3 separate regions of the Homo sapiens genome follow, and all the other regions are linked to region 1. Evidence: fine-mapped expression QTL. Tissue or cell type: whole blood. Region 1 holds a variant in brackets; each other region holds the start of a gene. All regions are shown on one strand. Distances are between the middles of the regions. Region 1 has its middle 8.1 kb from the start of PGBD2. Region 2 holds the start of ZNF672 (zinc finger protein 672). Region 3 holds the start of ZNF692 (zinc finger protein 692).

Region 1 (8,180 bases):
CTGCTGGCCCTGGCCATTTGTAGGTCTTTGGAGAAATGTGTGTACTCAGGTCCTTTGCTCATTTTTATATCAGGTTATTTTTGTTTTTGCTATTTATAGGAGTTCCTTATGTTGGAAATTAACCCATCATCAGATATGTTCTTTGAAAATATTTTCTCTCATTCTTTGGGTTGTCTTTTTATTTTATGGGTTGTTTCCTTTGTAATGCTGAAACTTTTTAGTTTGATATAGTCCCACTTGTCTATTTTTGGGTTTTTTTTGTGGTTTTTTTTGCCTGTCTTTTTGCTGTCAGATATATGAAATCATTGCCTGGACCTAGAAAAGTCAAGGAGCTTTACTTCTATGTTTTCTTCTAGGATTTTTAGGGTTATATAACTTACGTTTTAGTGGTTAATCCATTTTGAGTTAATTTTTGTGTATGGTGTAAGACAAGACTCCGATTACATGCTTTTGGATGTGGATATACAATTTTCCCTATTTATTGAAGAGACTATCATTTTCCTATTGTGTATTCATGGCACTCTTGTTAAACATCAGCTGACAATGTATGCATGGGTACCTTTGCTGATTTTAACCTGTATTCTTTCACTTTAATAAGTCAAAACTCACTGTAATGAATATACACATTTTCTTTTTTCTTCTTTTTCCCTTTCTTCCCTCCCTCCCTCCCTCCCTCCTTTCTTTCTTGCTTGCTTGCTTGCTTGCTTGCTTTCCTTTCCTTCCTTCCCCTTCCCCTTCCTCTTCTCCTTCCTTCCTTTTCTCTCTCTCTCTTTCTTTCTTCTTTCTTAGATGAGGTCTCGCTCTGATTGTCACTGGCTGGAGTGCAATGACACAATCATAGCTCACTGCAACCTCAAACTCCTGTGCTCATGTGATCCTCCTGCCTCAGCCTCCTGAGTAGTTGGGACTCCAGGTGTGTATGGCCTGCATCTGGCTATTTTGTTGTTGTTGTTAATTTTTTTAGAGATGGGATCTTGCTATGTTGTCCAGGCTGGTCTCTAACTTCTAGTCTCAAGCTATCCTCCCAACTCAGCCTCCCAAAGTGTTGGAATTATAGGCTTGAGCCATCACACCCAGCCTATAACAACTTTTCTGAGTTCTGTAAGTCCTTCCAGCCAGTCATTGAACCTGAGAGTGGTCTTTGGGTCAACCAACAACAGGCCAATGTTTGGGAACTTAACAAAGAGAAAGAAGCCAGAGGAGTGTGACTGTGGCCACAGTCTGGTTTTCCTCTGATTTCACAGGGACCAGTCCTGCCCACAGAGTGCTAGGCCTCCTCTTTGGTGGTGAGTAGCCCCCATATTTGTGGCTATACTGCCAGCCCAACCTGGCACACAAAGAGGAGGAAGGACAAAGAGGAGGAAGAAGGTCTGAGTAGCAAGGGTTCTGCTGCTCAAGGAAGCAAGACTACCTTTAAGAATTGGCTCCTGTTCTGTTCCCCAATCCAATAATCATCCTCGTGTCTGGTGCTGTTAGACATTTAAGGAATTAAATATCTTAATGATATTTAAGGCTTGCAGGGTATTTTTTTTTCTTCATTATTTTGGAGGAAACAGGTGGTTCTTGGTTACGTGGATAAGTTCTTTAGTGGGATTTCTGAGATTTTGGTGCACTAAGATTTTGGTACCTGAGCAGTGTACACTGTACCCAATGTATAGATTTTTTTGTTTTGTTTTGTTTTTAGACAGAACCTTGCTCTGTCACCAGGCTGGAGTGCAGTGGCGTGATCTTGGCTCACTGCAACTTCCGCCTCCCAGGTTCAAGCGATTCTCTTGCCTCAGCCTCCCAAGCAGCTGGGACTACAGGCACGTGCCACCACGCCCAGCTAATTTTTGTATTTTTAGTAGAGACAGGGTTTCACCATGTTGGCCAGGATGGTCTTGATCGCTTGACCTTGTGATCCGCTCACCTCGGCCTCCCAAAGTGCTGGGATTACAGGCATGAGCTACTGCACCCGGCCCACTGTATAGTCTTTTATCCATCACGCCCCTCCGACCCTTCCCCCGCCCCGAGTCCCAGAAGTCTATTATATCATTCTTATGCCTTTGCATCCTCATAGCTTAGCTCCCTTATAAGTGAGAGCATACAATATTTGATTTTCCATTCCTGAGTTACTTCACTTAGAATAATGGTCTTCAACTCCATCCAAGTTGCTGCAAATGTACGGCTTGCAGTTTTATGCAGTTTTAAATAGGCTCCCTGGTTCTCAGGCCGTTGACTCAAATTGGAATTACAACACTGGCTTTCCTGGGTCTTCAGCTTGCAGACAGCAGATTTTGAAACCTCTTAGTCTCCATAATCCATAAGCCAATTTCTCATAAATCTTTTCATATATACATATATATATATATTCTCTTGGTTCTCTTTATCTGGAAAACTCTAACTCTCACAATCATGCATACGTTTATCATTCCTTATGGATATTCTTTTTCTTTTAGAGATGGGGTCTTGCTCTGTCACCTAGGTTGGAGTGCAGTGGCACGATCACAGCTCACGGCAGCCTCAAGCTCCTGGGCTCAAGCAATCTTCCTGCCTCAGCCTCCTGAGTAGCAGCACACCTATAGCTCCAGCTGCTTCTAATTGGCCATCTTGGCCCCTCCCTCCTACAAAAAACTTTTAGAGGGAAGGGACAAAATTACTGATTAGAAGCAGCTGCAGTCTTCAGCGCTCACCAAGAAGAATGAAAATGGTAAGTGCATTCTATACCTTCAACTGAGATATCCAGTTGATATTGGATGCTGGCTAGGCAGTGACCCATGGAGAGCAAGGAAAAGCAAGGTGGGGCGACAGCCCACCTGGGAGCTGCATGGAGCAAGGGGATCGCCCGCTCCCAGGCCAGGGAGGCCGTGAGGGATTGCACTACCCCACCCAGGAAATCACACTTTTCCCATGGATCTTTGCAACCCATAGATCAGGATGTAAAAAGTAAAGTAGAGGTTCCTCTTCAAAGATTTTCCTCCCCATTTAATTAGGAATAAATAGTAACTTCTCTTAGAAGCAAAATTTATTCAAAGACCTGTGCTAACATTCTTAAATATCTGCTAGCCGTGGTAAAGAAATCAAAGTACTTTATGTCACAATTTAGCCTAAATATTTGCCCTAGCATGCTTATGCTGGTCCAAGCAAGCATTAGGTGATAGCCTGTTCCTCTTCCTTATGTGAAGGTGCTTTTTACCTTTCTCAGCATTCCACCAGTTACTTCCTCCTTCCTTTGTTCCCCTCTACCTTTGCCTCTTTAAGAAAGTTCTAAGTTGCTAGCCGATCGGAACAAATACAGGATGTGAGGTCCCGTGCCAGCCGATGGAAACCAGACACAGCAGTAGGGTGGATGCGTCAGGTTATAAATGACCCTGTCTTCTTTGTTTGGTGTACTCTCATGGCAAAACTGCTGGCAAGCATACCTTTTCTGCAGTAAGTAAAAATGGCCTTGCTGAGTAAATTAAATGTATGTTCAAGTGCTATTTCTTTACGGCACTGGGGA[G/A]CAAGCATTTCAAACAAGGAGATTCCTTCTTGAGCCTATGCCACCAGGGCCTTGGGTCCCAGGCACAGAGCTGTGCAGACCTGGTGGCCACTCCAGTCAGCAGCTGCTCGGGAAGGCACAGAGATGCAGGAGTTTTTGCATGCTGAAGCTTGAAAATTCCTGTGAGGCAGGAGATCTGTCTGTTCCTGTAGGAAGGGGGCTGAAGCCAGGAACCCAAGGGGCATCTTTCAGTGGGCTCCACTCCCACAAAACCTTACCAGCTAAGACCCACTGGCTTAGAAATCCCCATGGGCCAGTGGCAGCGACTGGAGACTGCCTGAGATGACCGAGTTCCTGGGGAAAGGGGCAGCTGCCATCTCTGCAGCTCCAGTTGGCTATTTTGCCCTCCTAATGCTGGGGAGACTGGGTGGTTTGGACCGGGAGGGATTCCCCACAGTGGAGCTCAGCAGCTACGGCAGGTTGTGGCCAGATTGCTTCTTTACATGGGACCCCGACCCATTCCTCCTCACTGGGTGGGGCCTCCCTGTGGGAATTTCAGCAACTCCAGCCAGGGTTTAATGGACAGAACTCTGATCTCCCTGGGATGCAGCCCCTTGGGGGAGGGGCAGCCATGGTCTCTGCAGTTCAGCCGACAGCCTTTCCCGCCTGCTGGCTTTGGAGAGTCTGGGCAGTCCAGATGACAGGGGTTCTCCCCAACAGTGTACCAACTCCACCAAGGGGCAGCCAGACTACTTCTTCAAGCAGGTCCCCCCAATCCTATCCCTCCTGACTGAATGAGACCTCCCAACAGGGGTCTCCAGACACCTCCAGCAGCATTTGGGCTTGAATCAGGTCAATGTTCCTCTGGGAAGGAGCAGGCTGCCACCTTTGCTCTCCTGACCTCATGATCCGCCCACCTCGGCCTCCCAAAGTGCTGGGATTACAGGCGTGAGCCACCGCACCTGGCTCAACATTTTTAAAGAAAAGAATTTCAAACCCAGAATTTCATATCCAGCCACACTAAGCTTTATAAGCAAAAAAGAAATAAGACCCTTTTCAGATGAGCAAATGCTGAGGGAATTCATCACCACCAGGCCTGCCTGGCAGGAGCTCCTGAAGGAAGCACTAAATATGGAAAGGAAAAACCGTTACCAGCCACTACAAAAACACACTGAAGTACACAGACCAACAACACTATGAAGCAACTACATAAACAAATCTACAAAATAACCAGCTAGCATCATGATGACGGGAACAAATTCACAAAGAAAAACATTAACCTTAAATGTAAATGGGCTAAATGCTCCAATTAAAGGACAAAAAATGGCAAACTGGATAGAGTCAAGACCCATCAGTATGCTATATTCAACAGACCCATCTCACATGCAGAGACACAAATAGGCTCAAAATAAAGGGATGGATGAAAATTTACCAAGCAAATGGAAAACAGAAAAAAGCAGGGTTTTTTTGTAGTTTCTGACAAAACAGACTTTAAACCAACAGAGATTAAAAACACAAAGAAGGGCATTACATAATGGTAAAGGGTTCAATTAAACAAGAGGAGTTAACTATCCTAAATATATATGCACCCAATACTGGGGCACCCACATTCTTAAAACAAGTTCTTAGAGAGTTACAGAGAAACTTAGACTCCCCTACAATAACAGTGGGAGACTTTAATACCCCACTGACAATATTAGACAGATTATAGAGACAGAAAATTAACAAAAATATTCAGGACCTGAACTCAGATCTGAATCAAGTGGATCTTATAGATATCTACAAAACTCTCCACCCAAATTCAACAGAATATACATTCTTCTCATCACCACAAAGAACTTACTATAGTTGAACATGTAATCTGAAGTAAAACACTCCTCAGCAAATGCAAAAAACTGAAATCATAACAGTTTCTCAGAACACAGTGCAATCAAATTAGAATTCAAGATTAAGAAACTCACTCAAAACCACACCACTACGTAGAAATTGAAAAACCTGATCCTGAATGACTCCTGGGTAAATAATAAGGCAGAAATCAAGAAGTTCTTTGAAGCCAATGAGAACAAAGAGACAACACACCAGAATCTCTGGAATGCAGCGAAAGCAGTGTTAAGAGGAAAATTTATAGTACTAAATGCCCACATCAAAAAGCCAGAAAGAGCTCAAGTCAATACCCTAACATCACAAATAAAAAACTATCCCCAAAGCTAGCAGAAGACAAGAAATAACCAAGATCAGAGTAGAAATAAAGGTGATAGAGACATCAAAAACCCTTAAAAAAATCAGCAAATTCAGGAGCTGTTTTTTTTGGGAAAAAAAAAAAAAAGTAAAATAGATAGACTACTAGCTACACTAATACAGAAAAGAAGGAGAAGAATCAAATAGATATAATTAGAAACAATAAAGGGGATATCACCACTGACGCCAATGGAAATATGAACAACCATCAGAAAATACTACAAACACCTCTATGCAAATAAACTACAAAATCTAGAAGAAATGGATAAATTGCTGGATATATACACCCTCCCAAGACTGAACCAGGAAGAAGTTGAGTCCCTGAATAGACCAATAATGAGTTCTGAAATTGAGGCAGTAATAAATAGCCTACCAAAAAAAAAAAAAAAAAAAGCCCAGGATCAGAAGGATTATAGCTTAATTCTACCAGAGGTGTAAAGAGGAGCTGGTAACATTTCTTCTGACACTATTTCAAACAATTGAAAAGGAGGGACTCCTCCCTAATTCATTTTATGAGGAAAGCATCATCCTGATACCAAGACCTGGCAGAAATACAACAACAACAAAAAAACAGAAATCAGGCCAGTATCCCTGATGAACATCAATCCAAAAAATACTCAATAAAATACTGGCAAGCTGAATCCAGCATCACATCAAAAAGCTTATCCACCATGATCAAGTTGTCTTCATCCCCAGGATGCAAGGTTGGTTCAACATATACAAATCAATGTATGTAATTCATCACATAAACAGAACTAAAGACAAAAACCACATGGTTGTCGCAATAGAAGCATAAAAGATCTTTGATAAAATCCAACATCCTTCATGTTAAAAACTCTCAATAAACTAAGTATTGAAGAAAATACCTCAAAATAATAAGAGCCATAGATGACAAACCCACAGTCAATAGCATACTTAATGGTCAAAAGGTGGAAGGAATCTTTTTAAAAACTGGCACAAGACAAGGATGTCCTCTCTCACTATTCCTATTCAACATGGTATTGGAAGTTTTGGCCAGGGCAGTCAGACAAGAGAAAGAAAGAAAGGTTATTCAAGTAGAAGAGAGGAAGTTAAATTATCTTTGTTTGCAGGTGACATGATCATATATCTAGAAAACCCCATTGGGTCAGCCCAAAAGCTTGTTAAGCTCATAAGGAACTTTAGCAAAGTCTCAGGATACAAAGTCAGTGTATGAAAATCACAAGCATTCCTATGTACCAAGAACAGACAAGCAGAGAGCCAAACCATGAATGAACTCCCATTCGCAATGCCCACAAACAAAATAAAATACCTAGGAATAAAGCTAACAGGGGAAGTGAAGGACCTCTTCAAGGAGAGCTACAAACCACTGCTCAAGGAAATCAGAGAGGACACAAACAAATGGGAAAACATTCCATGCTCAGGGATAGGAAGAATCAATATTGTGAAAATGGCCATATTGCCCAAACTAATTTATAGATTCAATGCTATTCCTATTAAATTGCTATGGACATTTTTCACAGAAATAAAAAAATATATTTTAAATTTCATATGGAACCAAAAAAAAGTCCTAATAGCCAAGACAATCCAAAGCAACAAGAGCAAAGCTGGAGGCATCAGGGTACCCGACTTCAAACTATATAAGAAGGCTATGGTAACCAAGACAGCATGGTACTGGTACAAAAATGACACATAGATCAATGGAACAGACTAGAGAACTCAGAAATAAGACTGCACACCTACAACTATCTGATCTTTGATAAACCTGACAAAAACAAGCAATGAAGAAATAATTCTCTATTTAACAAATGGTACTGGGAAAACTGGCTAGCCATATGCAGAAAACTGAAACTGGACCCCATCCTTACACTTTATACAAAAAATAACTCAAGATGGATTAAAGGCTTAAATGTAAAATCCAAAACTATAAAAACCCAGAAGAAAATCTAGGCAATACCATTCAGGACATAGACACGGGCAAAACCTTTATCACAAAAACGCCAAAAGCCATTGCAACAGAAGTGAAAACTGACAAATGGGATCTAATTAAACTAAAAAGCTTCTGCACAGCAAAAACAAAACAAAGCAAAAAAACCACAAACCATCATCAGAGTGAACAGACAACCTCCAGAATGGGAGAAAAATTTTGCAATCTATTCATTTGACAAAGGTCTGATATCCAGAGTCTACAAGGAATAAAAACAAATTTACAAGAACAAAAACAAACAGCCCCATTAAAAACATCATTGATCATTAGAGAAATGCAAATCAAAACTATAATGAAGGCTGGACGAAATGGTTCATGCCTGTGGTCCCAGCATTTTCAGAGGCCAAGGCAAGCGGATCACTTGAGACTAGGAGTTCATGACCAGCCTGGCCAACATGGTGAAACCCCATCTCTACTAACATTACAAAAAATAGCCAGGCATGGTGGCACACACCTGTAGTCCTAGCTACTTGGGAGGCTGAGGCAGGAGAATTGCTTGAACCCAGGAGGCGAAGG
Region 2 (8,180 bases), 60 kb before region 1:
ATAGTGGTCTATACCTTAGCCCTACTTACTTGCCTTTCAGTTGCCCCCAACAGCAACGTAAGCCATGTACTATGTGCCTGCTCTGCATGCCTATAACTTTTACTTCCCTTCCTTTCTGTCTCACTTCATAAACCACTGACAGTGCCCTCTAGCCAAACATAACCACCTTGATGCTGTTTGACTTACTTCAGCATTGGACATTGTCCACCACTTCCTCACATGGGAATCTAAAACCTGACCGTGTCCTGACCTTCTTCCTCCCCAAAGCCTTTACTGGCTTCCCCTTCTGCAGCTGCTTCCTTTTGGAGGCTGGTGCTCTAGGTATGGTGCCTTCAGCCCCTACTAATCCACCTATAGCCTCTTAGAAATGTCATCCACGCCCACGGCTTCGCGTATTCGCCTCTAACTTCCTAGTCTTTACAAATCCTGATACACCATGGCTCCTCCTCTTCTCACTGAGGGAGGCCTACACCCTTGGGTATGGGATAGACTCTATACTGTAAAGGAACATAATTTATTCATCTCTATATTTCTATTACCCAGCCAGGTGCAGACTCAGTGGGTCCTCAATAAAAGCTTCTGAAAAGGAGGAATTCCTTGATTTAGCCCAAAACTTATTTGCATTTCCTCTTCCAATACCTTCACCCACTCTACCTTCTTGAATTCCTGTCCCACCCCACTCAGCATCTTCCACAGGATTCTGAGCCTCCTCCACTCACTCAGTCTGGATTGAGTGCATGCTCACTCCCTTCCTGTTCATCTAATCCCTCTGCCTGACCCAGTCCCATCACTTATATTGCAGAAATCTGCCACTGGGGGTGTGTGGTGGGAGGTGAAAATCATTGTCACCTCCATCCACAGATCCCTATACAAAATCTTGGCTACATGCTGAGCCAATGAAGTTTACTGATGACCTATTGCAGAATTACCCTATTCTTCCTGTTGTACCTTTATACCACTTTGTACTTTGCACATGATGGGATGGCAAGGTCTGTGGGCGGGGGGAGCGGTTGCCATCCCTCAGCATGTCCTCAAAGGACTCAGTCTCCATTTTGTCTCCGATACTCAGCCCATTTCTTTGCACATAGCAGGTGTTCAGAAATGTGCATCCAGCCTCTGACTCTGCCCTCAAGCTTATAATTTAGTAGGAGAAATAAAGTATGCACATTATTCTAAAGTACATGGTGGCCAGGCATGTTGGCTCTTGCCTGTAATCCTAGCACTTTTGGAGGCCGAACACAGCAGATCACTTGAGGCCAGGAGTTCAAGACCAGCCTGAGCAACATGGTGAAACCCCATGTGTACTAAAATTACAAAAATTAGCCAGGCATGTTGGTGCGTGCCTGTAGTCCCAGCTCTTTGGGATGCTGACACACAAGAATCACTTGAACCTGGGAAGCGGCTTCAGTGGGCCGAGATCATGCCACTGCACTCCAGCCTGCGTGACAGAGCAACACTCTATCTTGAAGTACATGGTAAAGGATGTAAATAACAGAGTAAGTGTCTTATGCATCTTGTGGCTTGCAAAGATAATAAATACTTAGGGAATTTCTGGGTGAACAATACTAGTGGTCTTCAGAAAGAAGATAGTTTTCACTTTGAGAGTGGGTTGGTGTTTGAACAGAAGTCTGAAGGATAAGTAGGACTTTGGTAGACAAGAAAAAGTGAAGGAACAGGAGAAGTGTATGCCAAGCTGAGAGAAACGTAGAAGGTAGGTGGGGAGTGATCCAGTTTAATGGAGAGTTTAAGAGAACAGACTGGAAAGACAGGTTGGAATAGGTGAAAGAGGGTCTTGAATATTACACCAGAAGAGTAAACTTCATTTGGTGATTGTACAGACTTTTTTGACTATTACTGAGCAGGAATGTGATACAATCAGAACTTTGGGGAGATTCATCTGGTAGGTTCACAGCTGTTATCTCCAACGTCTAGAATACTACCTGGCATATAGTAGACCTTCCATAAACATTTTGAGTATTTACAGAACCACATTAAGAGTTGTCATTTATTGATGTAGATGTGTAGAGAAATAAAACCATTTGGATGTGATATTTTTAATTGACAAATATACACATAACTTCATCCTTGAACTTTCTTTCACTACCCTCCATCTTCCTGTTACAATTATCATCCCCCACTGTGATGACTTCCATAACATAGGAAACCTAAATCCAGCTTCCTGTTCTTTCCCCCCATTGTTTGAGTTTTTCCCTCCAAAGCTACACAGAAGAAAGTCATCTAATCCAGTCCTCTTTCACATGAAAGTTTGTTAGAATTTGTGTACAGTCATTATGTGCACAAAAAATGTTTCTCTTTCTAGGTTAAATATCCCCAGCCCCTTTAATTATGTGACCACCCTAGTCACCATCCTCTTCATGTCTCTGGGATTAGCCAAGTGTGTCAGTGTCCTTAAAAACATGACATCAGTACTGAGCAATGAGTCCAGAAATGTCTAAATTAGTACATTTCTCTGGCTTAAAGACTCTGGAAATATCCTCAACTAATCATTCTCTATATAATACTACCTTATCTGTGTATGATTCTTTACAATAAAAATATATATACTTCAAGCGCATTTTCCATGTCTCTCTCAATGTTATCCCTTCCTGGTTCAGGCCCTGATCACTCCAGACCTGCATCCTGTGTCTTGCTTTTCAGCTTTCTTGCCTGCTGCTACCAGATTTGTCTTCCTTAATCCGTGTTGTCATATGCGGGTCAGCAAACACTCATTGATCATCTGTGGCGTGCTGGCCCTCTGCTCATGCTTCAAGGGATCAATTGTTCATGAGTAGGACAAGGCCTGTCCCTTAAGCTATGGGGGAACAGTATTCATCTGACTATAACAACAGTATCAACATGCGGGAGGTTGCGCTGCAGCATAGATATGTCCCCAGGACTGAGGACAGAGAGGGGCATTCTAGCATAGGTTTATGGAGATGGCATTTGACTAAGGTTTTACAAATTAAAACAGAGAAGAGGGTAAGAGTTTTCCAGGCCAAGCATGGCAGGTCGAAGTACACTAATTAGGGGACCCCCTGAGCAGAGCTCAGAAGAGTGGTACTAAGTGACCTCCAAAGGAAGATTACAGCAGTAAAGGACCTTGAGGGCCATCCCTGGGCGTCTGTTCTGATGATATAGGCACACTAAAGGATGGCCAGGTTCCCAAAATGCATTTCCGGAAAGGAATACTAGTAGCATTTCCTAGTAGAAGACATTAGGGTCAACATTTGGACAGGCAGTTCAACCAGGAAGCTCATGGAGAGGCAGCTGGCAAGCCGACCAGGAGTAACCCCTATCCCTGGCATTGCGACTTTGGGCGTATCATTAACTTGTGGGGTCCTTACCTAAAATACAGGATAAATGCTCATATTTCCCCTGGCAGGGTTGTGGTGAGGGTTGAGAGATAATAGCTATCCAGTCTGGCCTCACTTAATAAGAAGGCGCTAACTTAACTACGGGGATGGCTGCCGCGGCCCCGTCCGCGCCGGGCACCGGCTACCGCGCCGGAAGCACCGAAGGGTACACCTGTCTGTGTCCCGCCAGCGGCCGCGGGAAGAGCTGCTGGAAGACTAGACGGTGGACCGCCTAGCTCCCGGGACTCCGCGGCTGGGGGCTGAGGCGCGCGCAGGGATCGGCGCCCTTTCCTCTGATTGGGCGGGACGAGGCCCAGGGGTGGGCCAACAGACAAAGCGGGAGGCAGGAATTGGTTAAGCCAGAAGAGAGGGCGGGGCCTTGGCCCGCGCGGGAGGCGGGAGTGGAGTCCCCCCGCAGGCTTTCTCTTTTAGCCCCGCCTGCTTCCCGGCTCCAGCTGGGGCCGGAGAGGCTGAGTGGTTGGTACGCTGCTCGCTGGCCTCCCAGTCTTCCCAGCAACCGGTGACACTGCCCGCGCCAGACTGACCACTAGCCGACGCGGGCGAGAGGGACAGGAGCGTGACCTCCCCATCCCGAGGGGCCGGACGCTCGGGCGCCTCCCCGCTCCCCCCACTCGGAGGCCGCGCGCGCCGTTAGCCCCTTCCTCGCTCCCCCGCCCCAGTCCCGCAGTCCGGGAGGCGGGGGTCGGCAGCCGGCTGAGTGGGAACCGCGCGGTGTCTGAGGAGGCAGTCGGCGACCGGTGAGGGGACTGAAGGGCAGGGGAGGGCAAGGGTGGCTCGGGGCAGCAGTCCTCAGCTGTGGCTAGTCTTCTCCCATCTGCCTCGGGCGACTGGTGTCTGCGGCGGTCGGGAGCGCCGCCCGGGCTGCGAGTGACGCGGGGATACTGCGGGGCGAGCGATTGGCCGGACACGTCCGCGCGGCCTGCTCCTCCCAGGCCTTCCCCTCCGCCTGTCCTCGCTGGTCCGCCTCGGGTGACCTTTTCGGGGCTGGCGTCACCACGACAAACGTCGCCAGGCTGAGCCGACTTAAGGGGGCAACGGCCGCCACCGGGTTCTGGCAGCGTTAAACGTTCCCCACTACGTTTTTGGTGCCCGGTCTCGCCCTCCAAGTCGGCTGGCGCCACGGGCAAGGGGCTAGGGTAGGCTCGGGGTTGGGAAGGGGCTCGCTCAAAGAAAGTTTGCCCAGCAACTTGTGACGCGCGCCGACTGAGGCGCCCCAGGATTGGCTGCGCTGCTGTGGGCCACGGAAAGCGACCTGTTCAGGTGCCGTGTTCCGCATTCGGCGAATAGTTGTGCTTCGCTCTTAAGTACCAGGCACCAAGTCCCCAGATGAGTAGCCAGCTTCCCTTCTTTCATCTTGGAGCCCACAGTTCGCGCAAGTGGAGCTATGGAAGGCCCATGCTGTGCTGTTCTAATCATGTGAGGGATTCTTAGGGGTTGAGGGGGAAGGACTGAAAACGGCTGCAGACCGTTTAGGATGCCTGGAGTGGAGACAGGAGTTAAGCCCCTTACTCAGAGTCGCTCTTAAGAACTGCCCAGGGCCGGGCACAGTGGCTCATGCCTGTTATCCTAGCACTTTGGGAGGCCAAAGTGGGAGGCTCTCTTGAGCTCGGGAGTTCAAGACCAGCCTGGGCAACATGGTGAGAACCCTCGTCTCTACAAAAAAAATAATGATAATAATAATTAGCCGGGTGTGGTAGCACCTGCTCATAGTCCCAGCTCCGCAGGAGGCTGAGGCTGGAGGGTTGCTTGAGTCCAGGAGGGCGAGGCTGCAGTGAGACAGTGATCAAATCACTGCATTCCAAGCTGGGTGACAGCAAGACCCTGTCTCAAAAAACAAACAAACAACAACAACAAGAAGGACTGTCCTAGGCAGAGTAAATCCTAAGCACCGGGCAACCGCAATTCTCAGTGTTAGCAATTTTTTTTTTTTTTTTTTTTTTTTGAGACGGAGTCTTGCTCTGTCGTCCAGGCTGGAGTACAGTGGCGCGATCTCGGCTCGCTGCAACCTCCGCCTCCTGGCCTCAAGTGATCCTCCCACCTCACCCTTCCCAGTAGCTGAGACTACAGACGGGCGCCACCACACCTGGCTGATTTTTGTATTTTTCGTAGAGACAGGGTTTCACTGTGTTGGCCAGGCTGGTCTCGAGCTCCTGACCTCAAGTGATCCGCCCGCCTTGGCCTCCCAAAGTGCTGGGATTACAGACGTGAGCCACCATGCCCGGCAAGATTTAGCAATATTTTGACCTTTCCATATGAAACACTATAATAATAGCTTTTTTTAATTTATTTTTTTGAGATGGAGTCTCACTCTGTCGCCCAGGCTGGAGTACAGTGGCACTATCTCGGCTCACTGCAACCTCTGCTTCTCGGGTTCAAGCGATTCTCCTGCTTCAGCCTCCCGAGTTAGCCAATACTACAGGCGCGTGCCACCATGCCTGGCTACTTTTTTGTATTTTTAGTAGAGACGGGGTTTCACCATATTGGCCAGGCTGGTCTCGAACTCCTGACCTCAGGTGATCTGCCCACCCCGGCCTCCCAAAGTGCTAGGATTACAGGCGTGAGCCACCGTGCCTGGCCAACTTTCTTTACTAAAGTTTTCCCATCCAGGAGGATCAGACATTCCAAGTCTACTGTCTAAGATCAGACAGCTAGTAATGGGAGGAACCAGAATTTGGATGCCTCTCTGGTTCTGCTACACAGGTTGCAGGCTCAACTAGTAAACCAAAGCAGAATATTTGTATGTGCAGTGCACAGTGCTGTGGAGGATATGATGACTGTAGTCAGAGTATTTGTATGTGCAGTGGATAGTGCTGTGGAGGATATGATGACTGCAGTCAGAGTACTTGTATATGCAGTGGGTAGTGCTGTGGAGGATATGATGACTGTAGTCAGAGTATTTGTATATGCAGTGGGTAGTGCCATGGAGGGTACGATGACTGTAGTCATAGTATTTGTATGTGCAGTGGGCAGTGCCGTTCAGGGTACGATGACTGTAGTCAGAGTATTTGTATGTGCAGTGGGTAGTGCTGTGGAGGATATGATGACTGCAGTCAGAGTACTTGTATATGCAGTGGGTAGTGCTGTGGAGGATATGATGACTGTAGTCAGAGTATTTGTATGTGCAGTGGGTAGTGCTGTGGAGGGTACGATGACTGTAGTCATAGTATTTGTATGTGCAGTGGGCAGTGCCGTTCAGGGTACGATGACTGTAGTCAGAGTATTTGTATGTGCAGTGGGCAGTGCTGTGGAGGATATGATGACTGTAGTCAGAGTACTTGTATGTGCAGTGGGTAGTGCTGTGGAGGGTACGATGACTGTAGTCAGAGTATTTGTATGCAGTGGGTAGTGCTGTGGAGGATATGATGACTGTAGTCAGGCCCTTTCCTCCAGGGACCTAACATTTGGGAAAATTGGATTCCAGACTAATACATCACTTTTAAAAAGCACTGAGTATCTTCTGTGTGCCCAAGTCCTTGCTAGGCCCAGGGAAGGTGTGAAAGACCTTATAGTCCTTTCTCTCTGATCTGGGGGGCTCTGGCCACTCTGGGCTTCAATGTTGCCTGTGTCTCAGAAGGACAGGACAAGCTCCCACTATGTATGTTCTCTCCTTGTCTACATCCTGTTGCCTGTGTCTCAGAAGGACAGGACAAGCTCCCACTATGTATGTTCTCTCCTTGCCTACATCCTGTTGCCTGTGTCTCAAAAGGACAGGGCAAGCTCCCACTATGTATGTTCTCTCCTTGTCTACATCCATACCTTCTCTATACTTCCCAGATTTCACAGGAAAATCTTTGTGAAACCAAAACTTTCAAAAGAATATATTTGGGCTCGGCACGGTGGCTCACACCTGTAATGCCAGCACTTTGGGAGGCTGAAGCAGGAGGATCAACTGAGGCCAGGAGTTCAAGACCAGCCTGGGCAACATGGCAAAACCCCGTGTCTGCTAAAAATACAAAAATTAGCTGTGGTAGCTCGAGCCTGTAATCCCAGCTGCTTGGGAGGCTGAAGCGCAAGAATCGCTTGAACCTCGGAGGCAGAGGTTGCAGTGAGCCGAGATCACACTGAGATGGCGCCACTGCACTTTAGCCTGGGAGACAGAGTGAGACTCTGCCTCCAAAATAAAAAGAATGTGTTGGCTCATGATCAGACTTGAGCACTTGGGCTGAGAGCAAACTGTCATTCCTATTTCCACCAGCTCCTTAGCTAGAGACTGAATCTGAAGCTGGAAGGAGCAACTTCTTTTGAAGTATTGGATTTTGTTTCTTTATGGGGGAAGGAAGCAAGGAGGGGCAATTCTGGTGCTCTGAATTCCGTTCCCCATCCGCACCTCCTAGAATAGGGCTGAAGTCTGTCCAGAGTGGAGAGGAATCCCTGCTTCCTGTTACATTCACTGACTAATAGATGCTCCTTCCAGCTTCAGATTCAGTCGGACATGTCTAAGGAGCTGGTGGAAACAGGAATAACAGTTCGCTCCTACCCCAAGTGCCTAAGTCTGATCGTGATCCAGATACATTCTTTTGAAAGTTTTGGTTTCACAAAGATTTTCCTGTGAAATCTGGGGAGTGTGGAGAAGGTATGGATGTGAACAGGGAGAGAACATACATAGTGGGAGTTTATCCTGTCCCTTTGAGACAGGATAGCCCACGCTGAAGCCCAGAGTGGCCACAGCACCCGAGATCAGGGAGAATAAAGCTGAGCAATGAGTACGAGGGAGGTGTGGAGGCAGGGGTGGCCTCTCTGAGAAAGGGTAGAGAGTCTTGAATGAAGGAGTGAGAGAGCTTTGCCAGTAGAAGGAATTGTAAGTGG
Region 3 (8,180 bases), 39 kb before region 1:
AATCCTCCCATGCCTTAAGATCCTTTTCCTCAGTTTTTCTTTTAGCCCTTTCCCCCACCCCAGCAGCCACACAGGCCCCAACCTGTGCCCCTCACATTCAAATACTGCCGGTTGGAGAAGATCCTTCCACAGCCAGGGAAGTCACAAGGCATCAGCTCTCTTTTGGCAGCTTTCCTGAGGAGAAGAATGGAAAGGAGCAGCATGACTCCTGCCTGCCCTTCTCTGCCTCCCTCCTCTCGGCCCTCCCCAGAACCCCATCTCCCTAAGTCCTACCTAATTCTCTTGGGGCCAATTTGTGCAGTGTCCTCATCCCAGGCCGGGGTTGGAGCAGACTGGGCCTGACTCCCAGTGCTACGGGCAGCAAAGAGGGAGCAGAGGGCCTCGAGGGAGGGCCACATCCCAGGACGCCCCTGCCCTTTCTGTCTCAGCCATCAGGTTACCTGGCCAGGGCCTCAGTCTGCTGGGCCGCTTGAGGGGTCCTGCTGAGCTGTGGCTGCACCCTGACTTCTGCAGGTGGAGGAGCTCTGGAACTCAATGAGGATGCTGACAAGGCCGGCACAGCAAGAGGACTGGAGAGTGCTGCAGGGGCTGGTGGTGTCTCCCCCTCTTTAGGTGTGCAGGTGACAGGGGAAGGCAGTAGTCTGGGGGCATCAGGCTCACTACTGAAAGGAGAACAAAGAGGAAGATGGCATTAACTTTCTGGGCAGTCAGCCATCCCCTGCCCGACCCTAGCCCCTAAACTGAAAAGATCTCAAACTTGAAACAACCCTACCCCCACCCTAGGCTCCCCATTCATATCTGCTTTCAGCCCTCAATCTCCCTGCACCTGACTTCACCCCTTTTCACCCCCTCAGTTCAAAGCCTCTAGTTCTTTTTGCCTTCCCCAAAACCCACCCTTCCCTCCACACTAACAAGCCCTTCCCTCTAGTCTGCAAAGCCATGAACTGCCAGGCCAGCTGCCTCCCTCTCTTGCTCTGCTCATTCTCCCTCAACCCCAACTTGCTCATCTGGGGAGGAGCTGTAGGTCCATAAGCTGGCATCACTGAGCATCTCCTCTTCATCCTCATCATTGTCCTCTTCTTCCTCACCCTCTTCCTCTCCTGGAGGTGGGAAGGTCTCTGGTGGGGGTCCCACCCTCCTGCAGGCCCAAAGAAGGCAAGCCTGAGGTCCTGCTCCCTCATCCTCCCACCTATGCAATTCCGCCTTTTCTCTCCTATCCACATCCTCACCTGGGCAACCTGGCCTCTTGAGTCCTCTCATCATGCTCAGATTCCAAATCTGTGGGACAGGCAAAGTCAAAAGAGAAGGAACTCTGGACTCAAGGGATGAGGACACATAAAGTTCTAAGGTCTGAAGTGATGGGAGACTCCTCTTTTTTTTTTAAATAGAGACGGGGTCTCACTATGTTGCCCAGGCTGGTCTCAAACCCCTGGGCTCAAGCAATCCTCTTGCCTCAGCCTCCCAGAGTGCTAGGATTATAGGTGTGAACCACTGCACCCAGGCAGAGACTTTTAAGAAGGAGGAGGAGGGAGCAGAGGCTATCTGAGTAGGAGGAGTTGTTCTGTTTCAGAGATGATATTCACATAGTTCACAAAACTATACAGTCAAAAATCTCCTTTCCAATACTGTCCCCCATCGCCTACTTCTTCCCATAGGCAACCTGGTTTTCTATGTGCCTTCCAGAGATATGTCATACATTCGCAAGTACTTACACATACACACACACACATTCACTTTCCCCTTATTTGTATTTTTCACCAATGATAGCATACCATACACTGTATTTTGTTTTGCTTTTCATGCCCAACAGTGTATTTGATGATATATTTGTCAAGATAGAGTTTTTCCATTGAAAAAGGATCATTTTTAGAGAACAGGGTTCTGAGCTACAGAAAATGGGAAACGTTTTTCCTCCCTTTTCTCCATAACTCTGCTTTTTTCCAGCCTACCTGCAAGCTCCTGCCCACTCGTGGCCTCGGAACACCAACTTCTCCGAGTAGTATGTGGAAGGGAGGCTGGCTTGGGTGCCTCTGAAGGTGTAGGGCTCAAAGAGGGTCCCCAGGAGAAGGTATGGCCTGCTGAGCACTCCCACACAAGCCCCCCATCTTGGCCGCCAGGCCCCCGAAGCCCGGGCACCAGGCTGCACTCTCGGCTGTGGGCATGAGACAAGAGCACCAGATACTGCAGACCTTTTGGAGGCAAAGGCTCAGGACCTGGAGGGGTGGGGGAAGCAGTCAGGCTGAACTGGGAAGTCTCCTCCTCTTACCCTGGAGAGCCATACCCAGGGAGCCCTGTTCCCTCAAACCCCAGGGCAACCTCAGCCCCAGTCCAATTTATCATTCTTCAGAACCTAGACACACTAGATCCTGAGACATTGCTCCCTTCCCCACCCAGAGGTTGCCTCCATCAAACTACCCTGTGCTCCCCAACTCACCCCACCCTTCCCAAACTTACTCAGGGCTCCCTTTGAAAGGAGGGTGTTTCTGGGTCACCCTGTGGTCCCTCTTCCCTCTGGCTCTCACCCCCTGCCATCCCCTACCTACCTGCACAGAGGACACAGCCTGAAGAAGTGTACCTGCCAGCAGGAGAAGAGGCAGGTCAGGACTCAGGTGGCCAGCCACCCTCAGCCCTGGGCACTCACACATGTAAGGGGCCAGCCCTAAGGGCCGCTATTCGCTGAGACCATGAGGAGGGGAGCAGGACCCTCGGAGGCCACAAGTCACACAGGCCGTCCTGGTAAAGTGAGAAACCTGAGGGTGGAAAAGAGCAGCAGGACAGGCCCTGGAGAGGAGGCTAGGGGCTGCTGCCTGGGTACCCTCCCCCAAGCCCTTCTCCCGGCCCCTAACCGGTCCAACAGGAACTTGGCGAGCTGCGAGTGCAGGGAGAAGCCCAGCCGCTCCTTGAGGAGGCACCACTGCTCCATGTGGCCGCCCAGGCGGATGCGGCACTTGCTGCGGCGCGCGTCCAGCTGCCGCCGCTTCTCCCGCCGCCTGCAGGACACGTCCACCGCCGGGGAGGAAGCCATGTGCACCAGAGGCTGGAGGGTGGAAGGGACGTCTTCAGCGCCCTGCCGATCTCGGGGGTCGGGGACCCGGCTCCACCTGCCGTTAGGGCCTCAGTTTCCTCATCAGTGAACTGGGGCAAGACTAAACTATTTCAATAGCAGTGGCAGGTGTGGAGCCAAACCCCGTCCTTCTATGATACAGGGTGTTGAAGCTCAGCGCTACCATGTGAGTGTCGTCGGGTGGGAGGCAGGCAGACAGAAGCAGTCAGAACAAAGGCCTGCGCCCTCCAGTCCACTGAAGTGGAGCTGTGGGGAAGGGGCGAGAGACTTTCACGGGAAATTTCAACTGGGCTGGGGGCGGTCCACACATTTCATCTTGAATAGGGCAGCGGCCTTTACTGGTTTCTAGGGGAAGGAAAGGTCGTGTCCTGGCGTGCAGCTGGGGGCGCTCTTCATAGTTGGGTCGAGTGGCGGTGAGGCCGTGGTCAGAGGTCTGGAGGGCGCCCCCCATCCACCCCGTCTTGGGCACCCCCACTTAATGCTGACAGTGAGTGGAGCGGACTAATCCCAATGGCAGTTCCCAGGCTGCCCAGAGCCCCCGTCGCGACCCACCCCCACCCCGGCCTTACCTGTGCGCCCCCACGCGCCCTCACCCCCACTGCGCCTGCGCCTGCGCCTCCCGGGCCTAGCGAGCAGGCCCGGAGCTGCTGGAAGACAGGGGCCCACCTCGCGCGCGCAGCGTTTCTCTTTTAAGAAGAAACGGTGCCTCTCGGCGTCGGCTGCTGTAGCCCGGAACTGAGGCCCGCGCCCCAGAGGGAGGGGCGAGTCGGAGGCCGACGCCGTGCGCCTGCGCACTGGGTGCCCCGCGCAACGCCCGCCGGGAATCGTGGTTGCCCGACTCAAGTCGCCCGCGCGTGTCGCGGAGCCCCGCGGCAGTTGTGGTTGGGTGGCTTCTGTGGTGAGCGTCTGCGCTTGGTGACCAAAGGTTTGAGGGAAAGTGGAAGAGACAGGGTCAGGCCTCCTGTGCTCCAACCCCAGCCCACCCGGCCTGTATGGGGACGTTGCCTCTTCACTTGTTCCCGTTTTGTATTCACCTTCGATTTCCCCCTCACAGTTGCCACCCGCAAACATGATGCAGAATCAGTCACTTTGAAAGACCCACAGAGGGTCCAGCTAGAGCCCTCTGTGGACCGCAGAGTCCCACCAGCTACAGCCCACTTCTATTACCATCAGAATTCCTCCTAAAAGTTGCCTGCATTCTCTGTGTACGCTCACTTCCCATCCTCTTCTCTTCAAATGGCTCTGATGGAGCTTTCCTCCCCACCCAGCCACTGCAGTGGCGCTTCACAAGGTCACTTGAGACGGTCATATTGCTACATAGCAGCTGTCAGTTCCGTCCGCCTCTCTGCCCTAGAAAGAGCGCGACTATGTAGCTCTCGTCCTCCTCATCTTTATGGCTCCCTCTACATTTTGGGCCCCAGTTTTACTTCTGTGACTTCATATGCTCCAGGTTTTCCACCCTCCTCACTGGCTCCTTCTATCCTTTTTTTGGATCCATTCCCTCTGTTCTGCCAAAAGATGAAGTGTGCCCTGGCTCAGGCCTTGAACCAGATCTTCTCTCGTCTGCATATGTTCTCCTGGGTGATCTAATTAGTTCCATGGCTTTAAATACACTGATGGCTCCTAGCCTAGCCCTCTTTCAACTCCAGTCATATATCTTACTGCCCGCTTGACTTACATGTGTTAACTGAGCTAACACGTGTAAAGAATGTAGGACAGTGCCTGGCATGTAGAGAGCGCTGACACATGATAGCTGATATTTTCTCCAACATAAATATGGCAAACATATAACAATAACGCCTGTACCCTCCCCCATGCCAGTAAACTATGTCATCATCCACCCACTTGTTCAGAAAAAAGGGAATCAGCCTTGATTCTTTGCCTTTTATGATACCTAAACCATATACATCAGCAAATCTTGTTGGTCCTGTCTCCAAAAATTTATCTTAAATCCAATCACTTCTGACCCTCTCAACTGCTAAAACCCTACTCCAAGCCACTGGTATTAATTTTCTGTAATTGTTGTAACAAATTGTGTTGTGTGTTGTTTTCAGCCACAAACTTGCTCCCTTTACTCAAATTTATTTTCTCACAGTTCTGGAGGCCAAGGCATCAGCAGGGCCACAGGCCATTGTAAGGGCTCTAGGGGAGAATCCTTTCCTTGCTTCTTCTAGCTTCTAATGGTGGCCAGCATTCTCTGACTTGTGGCCACGTCACTCCAATCTCTGTCTCTGAGGTCACATTGCCTCCTTCTGTGTCAAATCTCCCTCTGCTTCTCTCTTACAAGGATGCTTGTGAATGCATTTAGAGTCCATCCTTATAATCCAAATAATCTCTCCATCTCAGTATCCTAAGACAATTTCTTCTGTAAAGTATTTGCCATATAAAGTAATCGGCTGCACACGGTGGCTCACGCCTGTAATCCCAGCACTTTGGGAGGCCAAGGCGGGTGGATCACTTGAGGTCAGGAGTTTGAGATGTGCCTGCCCAACATGGTGAAACCCTGTCTCTACTAAAAATACAAAAAAAATTAGCTGGGCATGGTGGCATGGGCCTATAATCCCAGCTACTCGGGAGGCTGAGGCAGAAGAATTGCTTGAACCCAGGAGGAGGAGGTTGCAGTGAACCGAAATTGCACCACTGCACACCAGCCCGAGTGACAGAGCAAGACTCCATCTAAAATAAAATAAAGTAATCTCCACAAGTTTTGGGGATTAGGACACAGATATCTTTTCTGGGACTATTTTTAAGCCTACCATACCACTATCATCTCTCACCTGGTCTGTGGCTACATCTTCCTAATGGATCTGCCTCCTACTTTAACTTGTACTCTCACAAAGCAGGGAAAATTTCCTCAAAGATCAAATCTTTTGCTTAAAATCTGTGAGTGGTGCAATCCAAAATCCTTATCATGGCCTCAAGGACCTACTTAATTGGGCCCTTGGCTTCTTCTCTGGCATCATCCCCCAACTTTTCCCACTTTGTCCTCCCACCTTTTTGCTATTTCTCAAGTGTGCCAAGTATCCTAGAGGGAGTTCTTTTGTCTCTGGAGCACTCAATTCTCCCCTCAGCCCCCACCCCATCCCCCAGCCCACCACCCAGCTGTTCATCTGTTTGCTCCCTTCTCATCTTGTAAATCTCGGCTATAAGATCACCCACTCAGCTATAAAATCCCTCATTCAGAAAGCTCCCTTTCCTCAGTCATGCTCTACCTCACTGTGCCCTATTGTATCTTCTTCATGGCACTTACTTTCTGAAATCATCTCAGGGACTTGTTTGTGTGTTTGTTATTGGTATACGATGATTGTTGACTAGCCCAGCCTTCTCCTCTGCAGCCTAAATATCTCAAATGACATGGTGTGCAAACATGAACACCCTTAGGATGAGCCCAGTGTGTCCTGTGCATATTCCTTTTGATTTGTGGTATCAGTGACTCAACATACTTGTCTGACTAGTGTAAGGTAGGAAGGAAGATGTCCCAGCTACTTTACTCATTAATGAATGTGTAACTTTTCCAGCTACTTTACTCATTAATGAAAGTGTAACTTTCACATCAAAAGAGCAGGACTCCATCGAGAACAAACTTTATCCTTTCCTCATGGTCCCTTAATAGATATCTGCAAAATCCTTGTGGTTTCATCCAAGGGAATGAAAGGTCTTGTAATTCTTGGTTACTCTTAGAATGTTGGGTCTCACTTTGAGACCCAAGAACATTTTTGGTTCTCTTGGTTTGATCTTGTTTAAAATAATAAAATGAAATTACTGCCAATGCCCAGCTCTTCAATAACCGTCTCCAAATAAATCTCTCAGCCTCTCTTTAATTTCTTATATCATCTAGGTAAGGAATGAGCCAACTCTCTCAAAAACAGTCACCAGCCCCTTCCTTTGTAAGTGCTGCAAGGGAGTGCTAACATTTTAAGGAGGGGTTCTCTGTAAACATTGGTTCTCTGCCTTTAGTGACCTCATTGCAGTCTGAGACCTTGAATTCCATCTTAGCATCCCATTACAAAGGCTAAGATTAAATGTGAGCTATTTGTATTTTTGTCACTGTTGAGCTTTACAGTTTACAGACTGCTGAAACTGCCAATTCTTTTATACACATAAAAGGGTCCATGTGGAGGACATATTTATCTTCATAACATTTATTTTTCCTGGACTATGCATGGCACCATAGCGCTCTTCTTATCTCCTGCTTTGGCACAGCCAAATCTAATATTGCTGTACCCTCTGAACTTTTAGTATCTTCTCTCCAAAGAGAAAAACTACTTTCCACTCTCCAGATCCAAGGAGGAATGAGCCAAATTGCTACAGAAGTTGAGTCAACCCACTGCCCTCAAATCCTGAGATGTATTCCCAGTGGGAAAAGGAACACTCCTTCAGGACTTTGTACCCCAAATTCCACGAGACCCACAGACACCCTCAGCCCAGCCCAGCTCCAGGTATTTGCATGAACCTCCCTCTTTCTCAGCCCTCATCCTCTCAGTGACTGGTGTCTTCATCCTCCAACTAGTCATCATTGCTGGGAGTGCAATTCCGTTTCCCCTGAGCCCCTGACAACTGAAGGGTGGTGCCTCTACCCTGAGTCTGATCATGCCCTAGTGCGGCTGACCTGGGCGCTCTGTGATGCCATGTGGCCCAGGTAGGGTGGGGTGGTATACAAGAGATGCGGTTGCCCTTGCTCCTGGCTGGCCCAGCTGCCTGGGTTGGTCCTGTTAGCTTTGGCTCCGGGCCGGAGGGCAGACGACATGAAGGAGGAGGAAGCCAGCCGCCAAGAGACTCGCCGTGGTAAATTCAGCGTCTGCAGGGGTGCTTGACGCGGCGGAGCCCGCGACGCCGGCAGCGGAGCGACATGTTGCTCCTGGTGCTGAAGCAGCAGCTGCCCACCCTCGCTGTGGTTGTGCTGATGGCAGCAGCAGCCCGTCTAGGGTGGCCACTGCCGTGATGCTGGCTGCAGCGCTCCATGAAGCGAGTGGAGCCAGGAACAGGCAGAAGCCCCGCCCCCTCCTGAGTTGATAGGGTGGGACCTTCGCGCTCACGGGTGCAGCCTCTGCCGCCCGGCTGTGGCTGCCGACCAAGGCCTCCCTGTGCTCTTGGGGGCCAGGAGCAGCCAGGAGCC

What was found.
Region 2: ZNF672 starts here. The variant in region 1 is fine-mapped to the expression of ZNF672 in whole blood (TOPMed, PIP above 0.99).
Region 3: it holds the start of ZNF692, and the variant in region 1 is fine-mapped to the expression of ZNF692 in whole blood (TOPMed, PIP above 0.99).

Annotation. Positions count from the first base shown.
Region 1 is chr1:248,894,026-248,902,205 of GRCh38, forward strand. It overlaps a transcript of PGBD2 not described here. Among named protein-coding and RNA genes, the nearest start is that of PGBD2, 8.1 kb to the right of the region's middle. RefSeq lists a silencer at 1,847-2,029. The variant G/A (reference allele first, on the strand shown) is at 3,482.
Region 2 is chr1:248,834,441-248,842,620 of GRCh38, forward strand. ZNF672 (zinc finger protein 672) reads left to right here and starts at 3,784. Exons shown (of 4, transcript NM_024836.3): 1 at 3,784-4,111. RefSeq lists enhancers at 3,718-4,219, 4,220-4,719, 4,417-4,686, 5,027-5,106 and a silencer at 3,727-4,126.
Region 3 is chr1:248,855,285-248,863,464 of GRCh38, forward strand. ZNF692 (zinc finger protein 692) reads right to left here and starts at 3,801. Exons shown (of 12, transcript NM_017865.4): 1 at 3,634-3,801; 2 at 2,847-3,037; 3 at 2,544-2,575; 4 at 1,950-2,213; 5 at 1,230-1,278; 6 at 1,004-1,138; 7 at 441-662; 8 at 274-351; 9 at 96-174. The coding sequence starts at 3,025. It overlaps ZNF692-DT (ZNF692 divergent transcript), which reads left to right and starts at 3,880. Exons shown (of 3, transcript NR_186117.1): 1 at 3,880-3,962; 2 at 7,345-7,503. RefSeq lists enhancers at 2,606-2,685, 3,286-3,335, 4,136-4,285, 7,617-7,876 and a silencer at 3,496-3,995.